Regions from separate parts of the Homo sapiens genome. Here region 2 is linked to region 1. The links come from fine-mapping of genetic effects on gene expression. A gene starts in region 1. The other region holds a variant in brackets. All regions are shown on one strand. Distances are from middle to middle.

Region 1 (5,364 bases):
GGAGTGCAGTGGGTGCCTTGACCTCCCAGGCTCAAGTGATGCTCCTGGCTGAGCCTCCCAAGTAGTCGGACAAGTGTAAGACACAATGCTCTGTTAATTTTTTTTTTCATTTTTAATTTTTGAGACAGTCTTTTTTTTTTTTTGAGACGGAGTCTCGCTCTGTCTCCCAGTCTGTAGTGCAGTGGCGCGATCTCGGCTCACTGCAACCTCCGCTTCCTGGGTTTTATGCCATTCTCCTGCCTCAGCCTCCCGAGTAGCTGGGACTACAGGCATGCACCACCTACGCCCGGCTAATTTTTTTTGTATTTTTAGTAGAGATGGGGTTTCACCGTGTTAGCCGGAATGGTCTCGAACTCCTGACCTTGTGATCCGCCCACCTCGGCCTCCCAAAGTGCTGGGGTTACAGGCATGAGCCACCTCGCCCGGCGAGACAGAGTCTTGTTATGTTGGCCAGGCTGGTCTCAAACTCCTGGCTCAAGTGATCCTCCTGCCTTGGCCTCCCAAAGTGCTGGGATTACAGCCATAAGCCACCATGCCTGGCCTTGAGGCAACCTCTTCCTCCCACAGGGAACTGTGATCCCATAAAAATGTCTGAGGCTTTTCCTAACAAAAGCCAGCAGATGCCAGAAAGAGTTATTTCAAATTATAGAGGGCCACTCCTTACTTTAGTGTCCCTTCCTCCTGGCCAGATTTCTGGCATTCCTTTGAGATTACCAGACTGGTGCCAGGGGACAGTGGGACAAAGGGCTTGTCACCTGGGCAGGCCATTGGCATGGCCCCACCTCCCTGTGAGCCGGTATTTTTAGAGAAAGTCCTTGGCTCCTTTATCCAAACGGCCTCCCCAGATTGAAGCCCTTGGCTTCTCAGCCTTTCAAACATCCAGTGGCCGGCCTCCGTCCCAGGGGCCTTGGTCTCTCCTACCTCCCTGCAGGTCAACTTCCAGGCCTGTCGCCACAGCAGCCTTACAAAAGTCCCCTTTCATTTTTATCCTTAAATAAGACCATTTTGCGTGGAGCAAGTTCAGCCAAGTACACACTCTAAAAGATTTTTGCGGCCGGGCGCGGTGGCTCACTCCTGTAATCCCAGCACTTTGGGAGGCCGAGGCGGGCGGATCACGAGGTCAGGAGATCGAGACCATCCTGGCTAACACGATGAAACCCCGTCTCTACTAAAAATACAAAAAAAAAAAAAAAAAAAAAAAAAAAATTAGCCAGGCGTCGTGGCGGGCGTCTGTAGTCCTAGCTACTCGGGAGGCTGAGGCAGCAGAATGGCGTGAACCCGGGAGGCGGAGGTTGCAGTGAGCCGAGATCGTGCCACTGCACTCCAGCCTGGGCGACTGAGCAAGACTCCGTCTCAAAAAAAAAACCAAAAAACATTTTTGCTTCTGGAAGACTGTGAACTCCCCACATAGAAGCATTTCCTGTGTATCAGGCACTGGATTTCCTAAGCCCCTGGCAGCCCAGGAAACCTCCTGTTTCAGCTCATGTCCCATAAAATGGGATCCATAATTTTTATATGTATCAGCACCTCACTTCTAGGAAGGACGGGAGCAGTGAGGGACATGGGGCAGTGTGTGGCAAACGGTAGCAGGGGCCCTTGCCCCTCTACCCCGGCAAAGGTGCGTTAGTCACGGTCACAAGGCTGTTTCCTGCGGGGGATGGGGAGGCAGGGGCAGCGTCCACAACGCCAGTAGCCCCGTGGCACGCACCTTTGGCCTGTGCTCTGGGCAGTTGCGGCGGCCCCATGGCGGGGATGATGCCCCTCCCTCGACGGTCCCTGGGCCTCCAGCCCTGAACTTCTAGGCCCGAGCATCCTCAGTACCACGGACAGGGAAACTGAGGCTGCGGGAGGCGTGCAGAGGGCTGGGCCCCGGTAGCCGGCGTGCAGCCGGGCCCAGCCTGGCCCACCGTGTGGCCTCGAGCCCGTCACCTCTTCCCTCCTTCAGACCTCGGTTTCTTAGTAATTCTTCGGGCTCCGCGTTGGACAGGGCGAGACGCGCCTGTGGCAGCGCTGGGAAATGTTACAAAATCACACCCACTGAGCCCCAGGAGGAGGCTGCTCGCCCAAGGTCACGCGGAGAGGGCAGTAGCCTCCAGACACGTTTCCTGCCTGCCCCTGCCAGGCCCGGCCTCTGATGTCACGGGGCTTCCGAGGGGTCCAAGGAAACTTTCAGCTCCCAAAGCCAACCCCGGGGTCCTCCGAGGCTCAGGAGCCTCCCTCGCTCGGCCCAGTCCGGCTCCGTCCCACCGCGGAGGCGCTCTCCCGGCGCCCCCCGCGCCTCGCTCCCCTCTCCCCCTTCCCTGCGACCGCCGGGGCGCCCCCTCGACGCCCCGCCCCCTTCGCCCAGGCCCCGCTCACGGAGGCCGCAGCGCTCTGGGTTGGGGGCGGCGCCGCAGCCAATGGGGAGGCGGTGTGGCGAGGGCGGCGGCGGTTATGATGCGCCGGGCCGGCGGACGGCGGCCAATCAGTGGCGAGCGCGAGGGCGGGCTGTGACGCGGCCGGCGCTCCTCGTGCGGCGGCGGCAGAGGAGCGAGTGCAGCGGCCAGCAGCACATCCCCGCTCCACAGTCGCCGCAGTCGCCGCAGCCGCCGCCGCCGCCCCGCGCGCCCAACCGCCGCGGCCCCCTGCCCCGCCGGCCTGCCAGTGAGAGAGCGGCGAGGGGGCGCCCGGCCGGACTCTGAGCCTAGTCCTCTCGCGCTGCGGCCGCCCGCGCCTCCTCGGCCGCCTGTCGGGCATGAAAACCAAATTCTGCACCGGGGGCGAGGCGGAGCCCTCGCCGCTCGGGCTGCTGCTGAGCTGCGGTAGCGGCAGCGCGGCCCCGGCGCCCGGCGTGGGGCAGCAGCGCGACGCCGCCAGCGACCTCGAGTCCAAGCAGCTGGGCGGCCAACAGCCGCCGCTCGCGCTGCCCCCTCCGCCGCCGCTGCCGCTGCCGCTGCCGCTGCCCCAGCCCCCGCCGCCGCAGCCGCCCGCAGACGAGCAGCCGGAGCCCCGGACGCGGCGCAGGGCCTATCTGTGGTGCAAGGAGTTCCTGCCCGGCGCCTGGCGGGGCCTCCGCGAGGACGAGTTCCACATCAGTGTCATCAGGTCGGTGGCGCCGGGTCTGGGGGCCGCGGGACAGTCAGGTGACGCGGGGCGGGGCCGGGGCGGGGTCCGGGCAGGGGGCGTGGGCCGGGGGGGTCGGGGGCCGGGGGAGCCGGGGCCGGGGCGGAGGCCGGGGACCGGGGACCGCAGCCGGCGAAAGCCCTCCTTCTCCCAGCCCTGGGTAATCCAAGGGAAGCGGGTTCGCGGCCGCCGCAGGCCGTCCACAAACAGGCTTTTGTAAAAACGTCGGTTTCATGAGAAAACGGGTCTGTTCTAGGAGAACAATACCGTTCCATCACGAAGTGCGTGTGGTACTGACGCTTAAGATAGGTCTAGAAAGTCTCTGCGGTTTAGGGCCTTGAATGAAGGTGTTGTGGCTGGCTTTAAAAACACAAACCACTTTTTAACTTTTTTCTGTTAGTTTTTCGAGTTCGCGATTTGATGTCTTGTTCCCTCTCCAAGAGTCATTGTTAGTGGAGGAGTAGCATTTTCTCATCCCCTAAGAGACATCACTATAGCTGTGTTACTAGACAAAGGTGGGAGGCGTGGCTCCTAAAATAAGAGTAAGGTAGAAATGTTTTTTCCTTTTTTTTTTTTTTTTGAGACGGAGTTTCGCTCTTGGTCCCCAGGCTGGAGTGCAGTGGCGCGACCTCGGCTCACTGCAACCACGGCCTCCCGTGTTCAAGCGATTCTCCTTGCCTCAGCCTCCCGAGTAGCTGGGATTACAGACACACGCCACCACGCCCGGCTAATTTTGTATTTTTAGTAGAGACAAGGTTTCTCCATGTTCGTTAGGCTGATCTTGAACTCCCGACCTCAGGTGATCCACCCGCTTCGACCTCCCAAAATGTTGGGATTACAGGCATGAGCCACCGCGCTCGGCCATTTTTTCCTTTTTTTAAACTTGAAAATATTTAATCTTAAATTTGAATTACAGAAGTACGCGTGTAGGTATTCAGACTTAACAGAAGTCTGACCTTCTTTCACCACTCTGCTCCGAAGACATAACCATTCAACGTAGTGTGTGCATCCTTCTATTGAGACCTTTAAAGATGTGTTCCCGGGCCGGGCGCAGTGGCTCACGCCTGTAATCCCAGCACTTTGGGAGGCCAAGGTGGGCGGGTCACGAGGTCGGGAGATCGAGACCAGCCTGGCCAACATGGTGAAACCCCATATCTACTAAAAATACAAAAATTAGCTGGGCATGGTGGCGCACACCTGTAGTCCCAGCTACTTGGGAGGCTGAGGCAGGAGAATCGCTTGAACCTGGGAGGCGGCGGTTGCAGTGAGCCGAGATCACGCCACTGCACTCCAGCCTTTGACAGAGAGAGACTGTCTCAAAAAAACAAAAACAAAGAACGTGTTCCGTCATTTTCTGCCAATTTTCTTTTAATTGGCTGACAGGTTGTGTGCAGTATCTAGAAATTTGCTGGCTGGCTGCCACCAGTAATCCCCAAGTCCAGTTTTGGTCATTTGATTCCTTTTCTGTGCCCACTGTCTTTCACCAGAGCCGCTAATGCAGCAAAATTAACTCTTTGAGCTTCACTTCCTCTTTGTGCTTCAGCCCCTCTGACTGCTTATGAGCTAAGAGTGAGAGTTAATAGGCAGTTGGTAAGGAAGCAGAGAAAAGAAAACCGAGGCTGTTTAGATAATCCCTGAATTGCTTAATGGCACTTAAAAAAAATTCAGCTCTCTCCAAGGTTTACTTTAATCTACTTTTAGTTAGGCCTGAAAATTCTCAACTAGAAGGGCGATCATTTTAGGCCATGTACTCATCAGTCTGTGAAATGGAAAACCTAAAGGAGAAGTGACTTGCCTGAGGTCAGTGGCTGTTTACTGCCTTCAAAGCCTGAACTGCCAGGTCTCTGGTGTCCCCTTCTCCTGCACCAGTGCTCTAGCCTGCGGCCTGTGAAAATGTTTGGACACCCTAGATCCAGCCTTAAGATATTTTCATGGCTTTCTCCAGGGAGAGTCACTCAGCAGTTAAACTTTTGCATTTTGCTCAAACCAGTTATTAGGAAAGCATTGAGGATGTCTTGTTTCTTTTCTCCAGGAGTTAGCAGTCTTGGAAAACACAGCTTTCCTTTTGGATTGGATGACCTTTTTACATAATGTTGCAAGAGTACACTCTCTCAGTCCTGTGTTCTGAAAGAGAACGTAGTTATGGAATAAGTTTAATAAGGAGAAAAAAAGGTGATTTAGGACATGGGAAAGTGGGTGATGTCTAGCTTTTAAAAAAGACACAAGGGCATTTGGAGGTGCGGAGAAGGAGAGGAATTCGTC
Region 2 (5,364 bases), 22 kb before region 1:
GACGTGGTGTGAGGTCTGAGCAGCGTCTGGCTTCAACCTGCTGCTGCCACAGGCTGTGTGCCAAGAGAGGTCAGGGGACTGGCAAGAAACGAACTGTCCTCGGGCTGGCCCTCTGCCTACTTCCTGGTATAGAACACCCCGCCCCGGGGGTTCCCACGCGGCCCTGAGGGCTGGGCCCCAACAGCACAAAGCTCAAAAACCCAGCCTCCCAAGGCGGGCGGATCACCTGAGGTCAGGAGTTCAAGACCAGCCTGCCCAACATGGCAAAACCCCGTCTCTACTAAAAATACAAAAAATTTGCTGAGTGTGGTGGTGGGCACCTGTAATCCCAGCTACTTGGGAGGCTGAGGCAGGAGAATCACTTGAACCCAGGAGGCGGAGGTTGCAGTGAGCCAAGATCGCGCCATTGCACTCCAGCCTGGGTGACAGAGTGAGACTTCGTCTCAAAAAAAAACACAAAATACCAGCCTCATCCAGCTTAAAGGGCCAGCCTCCCCCGACTGCCTTTGCACAGCCAAGAAATACAGAGAGGGAAACTGAGGCTCAGTGACGGGCCAAGCGTGTGTGTCAGGCAGGGGCAGAGCTGGCACGAGGCCCCATCTCTCCTCCAGACGAGAAGGGAAAGTGTGCTTTGGTCGGGGAGTAGTGCTGCAGGCTCAAAAGAAGGAATGAGAGAGAGAGGCTCAGGGTGCCCACTGACGGGCCTGGTAGGGAGATGGGGCCTGATGCGGCCCCATCCTGAAGCTGCCCCTCCCACCCCCAGTGGGGCAGCCAGGTTAGCACGTGACCCCTTGGCTGGCAGACACGCAGAACAGGGCTGTCCTGGAGATGAGCCAGGTGTGACCCATACCCCCATACCAGACAGCATTCTGGGCATTGAGTCACAGACCTGAGGTTCCCAGTCATTAGGTCAGGTGAACAGACTGCAGTAAGGGTGACAGCGTGTTACTGACCACATGGCTTCCAAAGGCCGTGGTGTCAGCCGGGTTCAGAGGGGTCCTGTTGAGAGAAGCTGACCTTGGACTCTGGCCTCCAGAAGCTGCAAAGGACTGGCCTCTTTCCCTCCTCCAGCTTCAGCCACCCCCAGACCAAGGCACTAGACGGTCCAGCTCCTACAGCCACAGCACCCTGGGGCTGTCTTCAGGGAAACTCACCCCAAGATTCCATGCATTCATTCACTCACTCATTCATTTATGCTCTGTTTGCTGAGCCTCCACTCTGTACCATGATCTACACGGGGCACACCTTGGGCATCAGGGAATTCCCTCTCCTTGCCCTCAGGTTGTCCCAGTCTGACCGAGGAGACAGACAGACAGACACACACACACACACACACACACACACACACACCATACACACCATACACACCATACACACCACACACACACACTATGGTTGGGGCTTTGATGAGTACAACGTAGGGGATGGAGTACACAGAGAAGTTGTGTGTGTGTGTGTGTGTGTGTGTGTGTCTTCCTGGGGTCAGGGGAGGGTTATAGGCACAGCAGAGAAGACTTCTGGGAGGAAGTGTCCTTCGAGCTGGGTTTTGAGGGAGAAAGAAGAGTTGGGCCACAGTGGTGAGGAAGTGTCCTGCGGCCTTCAACACTGCCTCAGCAACTTTGGAAGTAGAGCCCCCCTCCCACATCCTTCACCCCCACCTTACTCACTCACAACAGCCTTATTTCCTGGGCTGAGAGCTGAGGCCTCAGACATGGCCCACAACCTCACACTAACTCGTTTACAACTAGAACAGCACTACTTTAACAAGACACTGATGATGTTTTATGTGTTTTTATTTTATTTTATTTTATTTTATTTTTTTTTTTTTTGAGACGGAGTCTTTCTCTGTCGCCCAGGCTGGAGTGCAGTGGTACAATCTTGGCTCACTGCAAGCTCTGCCTCCCGGGTTCACGCCATTCTCCTGCCTCAGCCTCCCAAATGGCTGGGACTACAGGCGCCCGTCACCACGCCTGGCTAATTTTTTTGTATTTTTAGTAGAGACGGGGTTTCACCGTGTTAGCCAGGGTGGTCTCGATCTCCTGACCTCGTGATCTGCCTGCCTCGGCCTCCCAGAGTGCTGGGATTACAGGCATGAGCCACCGCGCCCAGCCCGCCTGGCTATTTTTAGTTATTTATGTATCGTGAGTCAGGGTCTCATTCTGTTGCCTAGGCTGGGGTGCAGTGGCATGACCATGGCTCATTGGAGCCTCAACCTCCAGGGCTCAGGTGATCGTCCCACCTCAGCTTCCCAAGAAGCTGGGACCACAGGCATGTGCCACCATGCCTGGGTAATTTTTGTATTTTCTGTAGAGATGGGATTTTGCCATATTACCCAGGGTGGACTGATGATGTTTTTAAAAGAAGATAGGCTGGTGCGGTGGCTCACGCCTGTATTCCCAACACTTTGAGAGGCCGAGGTGGGTGGATCACGAGGTCAGGAGAGTGAGACCTCCTGGCCAACATGGTGAAACCCCGTCTCTACTAAAAATACAAAAATTAGCGGGGTGTGGTGGCGTGCGTCTTTAGTCCCAGCTACTAGGGAGGCTGAGGCAAGAGAATCACTTGAACCCATGGGGCGGAGAGGAGCCGAGATCGCGCCACTGCACTCCAGCCTGAGCGACAGAGTGAGACTCTGTCTAAAAATAAATAAATACATAAAAAATAAAAGAAGATAAAGAGGAGTTTTTGGTGGACTTGTAGAATTCAGGGTCTGGGATCACACAGACCTAGGTTTGAGCATAGATTCAGCCACTTATTGGCTGAAACGTTTGTCTTTCTGAGCCTCCGTTTCTTCATCTGTGAAATGGGTGCTCATGAAGCTTTGGCAAGGCTGAAGTGAAGTGACTCATCAGATGTGTCCAACATAGTGCCTGGCCTTGGGTCAGCTCTCCATAAGGCCCTGATCTTGGCTGTTAGAGAGTTTCCTGAGACAGAGGCTGGGCCGGGCACTTGCTGTTTGGAGAAGGGGAGGAGACATTATTCTCGCTTCTCCAAGAGAACATTCCATCCTCAACTGTCTCTCACACTCTGAGCTCCAGC[C/A]TGTACCTGCCACCTCCCCAGACTCCATCCAGCTCCTGCTGCCAAGGTGAGGAAGAAAGGATGGCCACCATCAGCAGGGCTGGCGACAGTGGGGCCTGCGTTTCCCCGTCCGGGTCATTCACTACTTCTGACTCCTAGAGTCCATTACCCCCTCTTTGGAAAGGTCACCTCCCCATTCTCAGTTCATGTGGCTCAGGGAGGAGAGGCCTTTTCTGACCCCAGCCTACTCCATGGCTGGCCTATGAGAGGGCGCACCCCCCGGGCACTGCGACTGGTCAGGGATGAACATATCACCAAGCCTGGCCAATGAGATGCAGCCTGGGGACTTCAGCTGGGACCCTGAGGCAAGGTGACCTCTCTCCACTGGGGTAGCCTCATGGGCAGCAATGGAGCTGGCCTGAAGCTGCAGACCACCATATTGCTGTCGCAGGAGAGAGGCTGCCAGGGAGGAAGCTGGACCGCCAGACGTGCGTCTGCAAGCCCAGGTGCCTCAACCTGCAGCCCAGAGAAAACCTCCAGGCCTCTGCCAACCTGCCCCGGTGCAGCAAGAGTCCAGCCTGGGCAAGGGGATTCGGAGGCTTGAGCTCGGGCCCCAGGCCAGCCCCAGCACTGATCTGCGCAGGACCCAGGGCCAAGCACTGCCTTGTTCTGAACTTCTGTCAACAGCAGGCCCTGTCCCTGCCCTGTGGAGTGCACAGGGCTGACAAGGCCCAGGCAAGGAGACAAGGTGGACAGGTGAGGGCCATGGCAGTCCCCTACTCCACAGGGCAGCAGCCCCAGGAGAGGGAGGGGAGGCAGGCTGGCCCACCCTGCTCCCCTCACCCTGCCATGCCAGTCCCTGACCGGCATCCTGGCCTCCCACAGGGCACTGACCCACAGCCAGGGAGAAACAGACGAGCTGGAAGCTTCACACTCCTGGGTTTGAATTCGCACCCCACCACCTCCCAACTGTGTGATTTGGGGCAAATGACATCACCTCTTTGAGCCTCACTTTCCTCATCTGCTACCAGGAAATGGAAAGAGCGCCTCATCGGCCATCGCCGCAGGCACTGGGCTTGTGTGTCCCCGATGTCGCCCTGGTTTATCTCCACGTCCCCATGAGAGACGCCACCACTGCCTGTTCCAAATGAGGAAACAGGAAAATGAGACTCAGGCACATGAAGCGACCAAAAAACCACAAACCCACAGAACTGGCAGAGCCGGGCTCGCACCCCCAGCTTTCCTGTTCTAAAGCCAGTCCTGCCTCAGCCTCCTGGGGCCTGGCACCCGGTGAGTGCTTGGCACAGGGGCTTGGCACCGGTGAGTGCTTGGCAAATGCTGGCTATTATCCTAGAAGGACATTTCTTGGGGTAGGAGGCCCTGGCTGCTTGTTGAGCTGCCCCACACCTGGTGTCCCTTCTGCAATGTGGAATTCCCCATTGAGGGGGTCTTGTTGAGCGCGGGGACCAGAGCCTTGTTCCTCCATTCCCCAGCCTCTAGAGCTCAGGCCTATAGGCCCAGCTGCTTTGCCTTAACACCTCTGCCTCATCAAGGTTCAGTTGGGAAAATGGCATTTCAAGCAGGAAAGGACTGAACACGGGGAATTTGAGGCTTGCAAAACCTTCCAAAGAGCTGAGGGGCAGCCACACCTGGTCCAGAAGTTAGGATTTGTAGCCTGGCATGGTGGTGCACGCCTGTGGTCCCAGCTACTCAAGAGGCTGGGGCAGGAGGACTGCTTGAGCCTGGGAGGTCAAGGCTGCAATGAGCCATGATTGCACCACTGCACTCCAGCCTGGGTGACAGAAAGAGACCCTGTCTTAAGAAAAAGAAAGAAAAGAAACTAGGACTGGAGGAATTGCAGGAGCATGCACCACTCGGAGGGGGGCTGGTCAGCCCCAGGAGACCCCCAGAAGTCACTGGCAAAGTGTCACATCTGGCAAAGCCCACCCCTGCCTGCCACTGCACCTCCCCACAGCCTTCCAGGTGTCAGGCAAATGCCCGTGACTGACAGGCTGTAACCCAGAACCCTGCTGCAGGGGCTTCAAGGAAACGTGGCTGTCAGGCTTCCAGCCCCTGCAGCCCCCTGCAGCCACAGAGCAGGGAAAATGGTGCTGAGTGTCCAAGGCCCTCAGCCCTAAGAGGACTGCAAAGTGCCCTGCACTGACCTGGCACACAGGTGCCCCCAATGCAATGCCGCCTCCTGCTCCTCATGCGTGTGGTCCTGGGCAGGTTGCCAAATTGCTCTGTGCCTGCCTCCTTGTCTGCAAAATCAAGATAATAATAACCCCCACCCCACAGGGCTAATGTGAGTATTCTTTGTGATAATCCATGTAGGAAGTTTGGCAC

Evidence for each region. PIP is the estimated chance that this variant, and not a neighbour inherited with it, causes the effect.
Region 2: its variant is the best candidate, but not a certain one, in a credible set for the expression of CHKA in whole blood (INTERVAL, PIP 0.65).

The regions. Positions count from the first base shown.
Region 1 is chr11:68,118,548-68,123,911 of GRCh38, reverse strand. It overlaps CHKA (choline kinase alpha), which reads left to right and starts at 2,524. Exons shown (of 12, transcript NM_001277.3): 1 at 2,524-3,084. The coding sequence starts at 2,735. It overlaps CHKA-DT (CHKA divergent transcript), which reads right to left and starts at 2,024. Exons shown (of 4, transcript NR_183630.1): 1 at 1,709-2,024. RefSeq lists silencers at 1,670-1,769, 2,120-2,549, 3,120-3,249 and enhancers at 1,019-1,785, 1,786-2,551, 3,400-3,529, 3,670-3,799, 4,225-4,741 and 1 more.
Region 2 is chr11:68,140,992-68,146,355 of GRCh38, reverse strand. No RefSeq gene overlaps it. Among named protein-coding and RNA genes, the nearest start is that of CHKA-DT, 22 kb to the right of the region's middle. The variant C/A (reference allele first, on the strand shown) is at 3,040.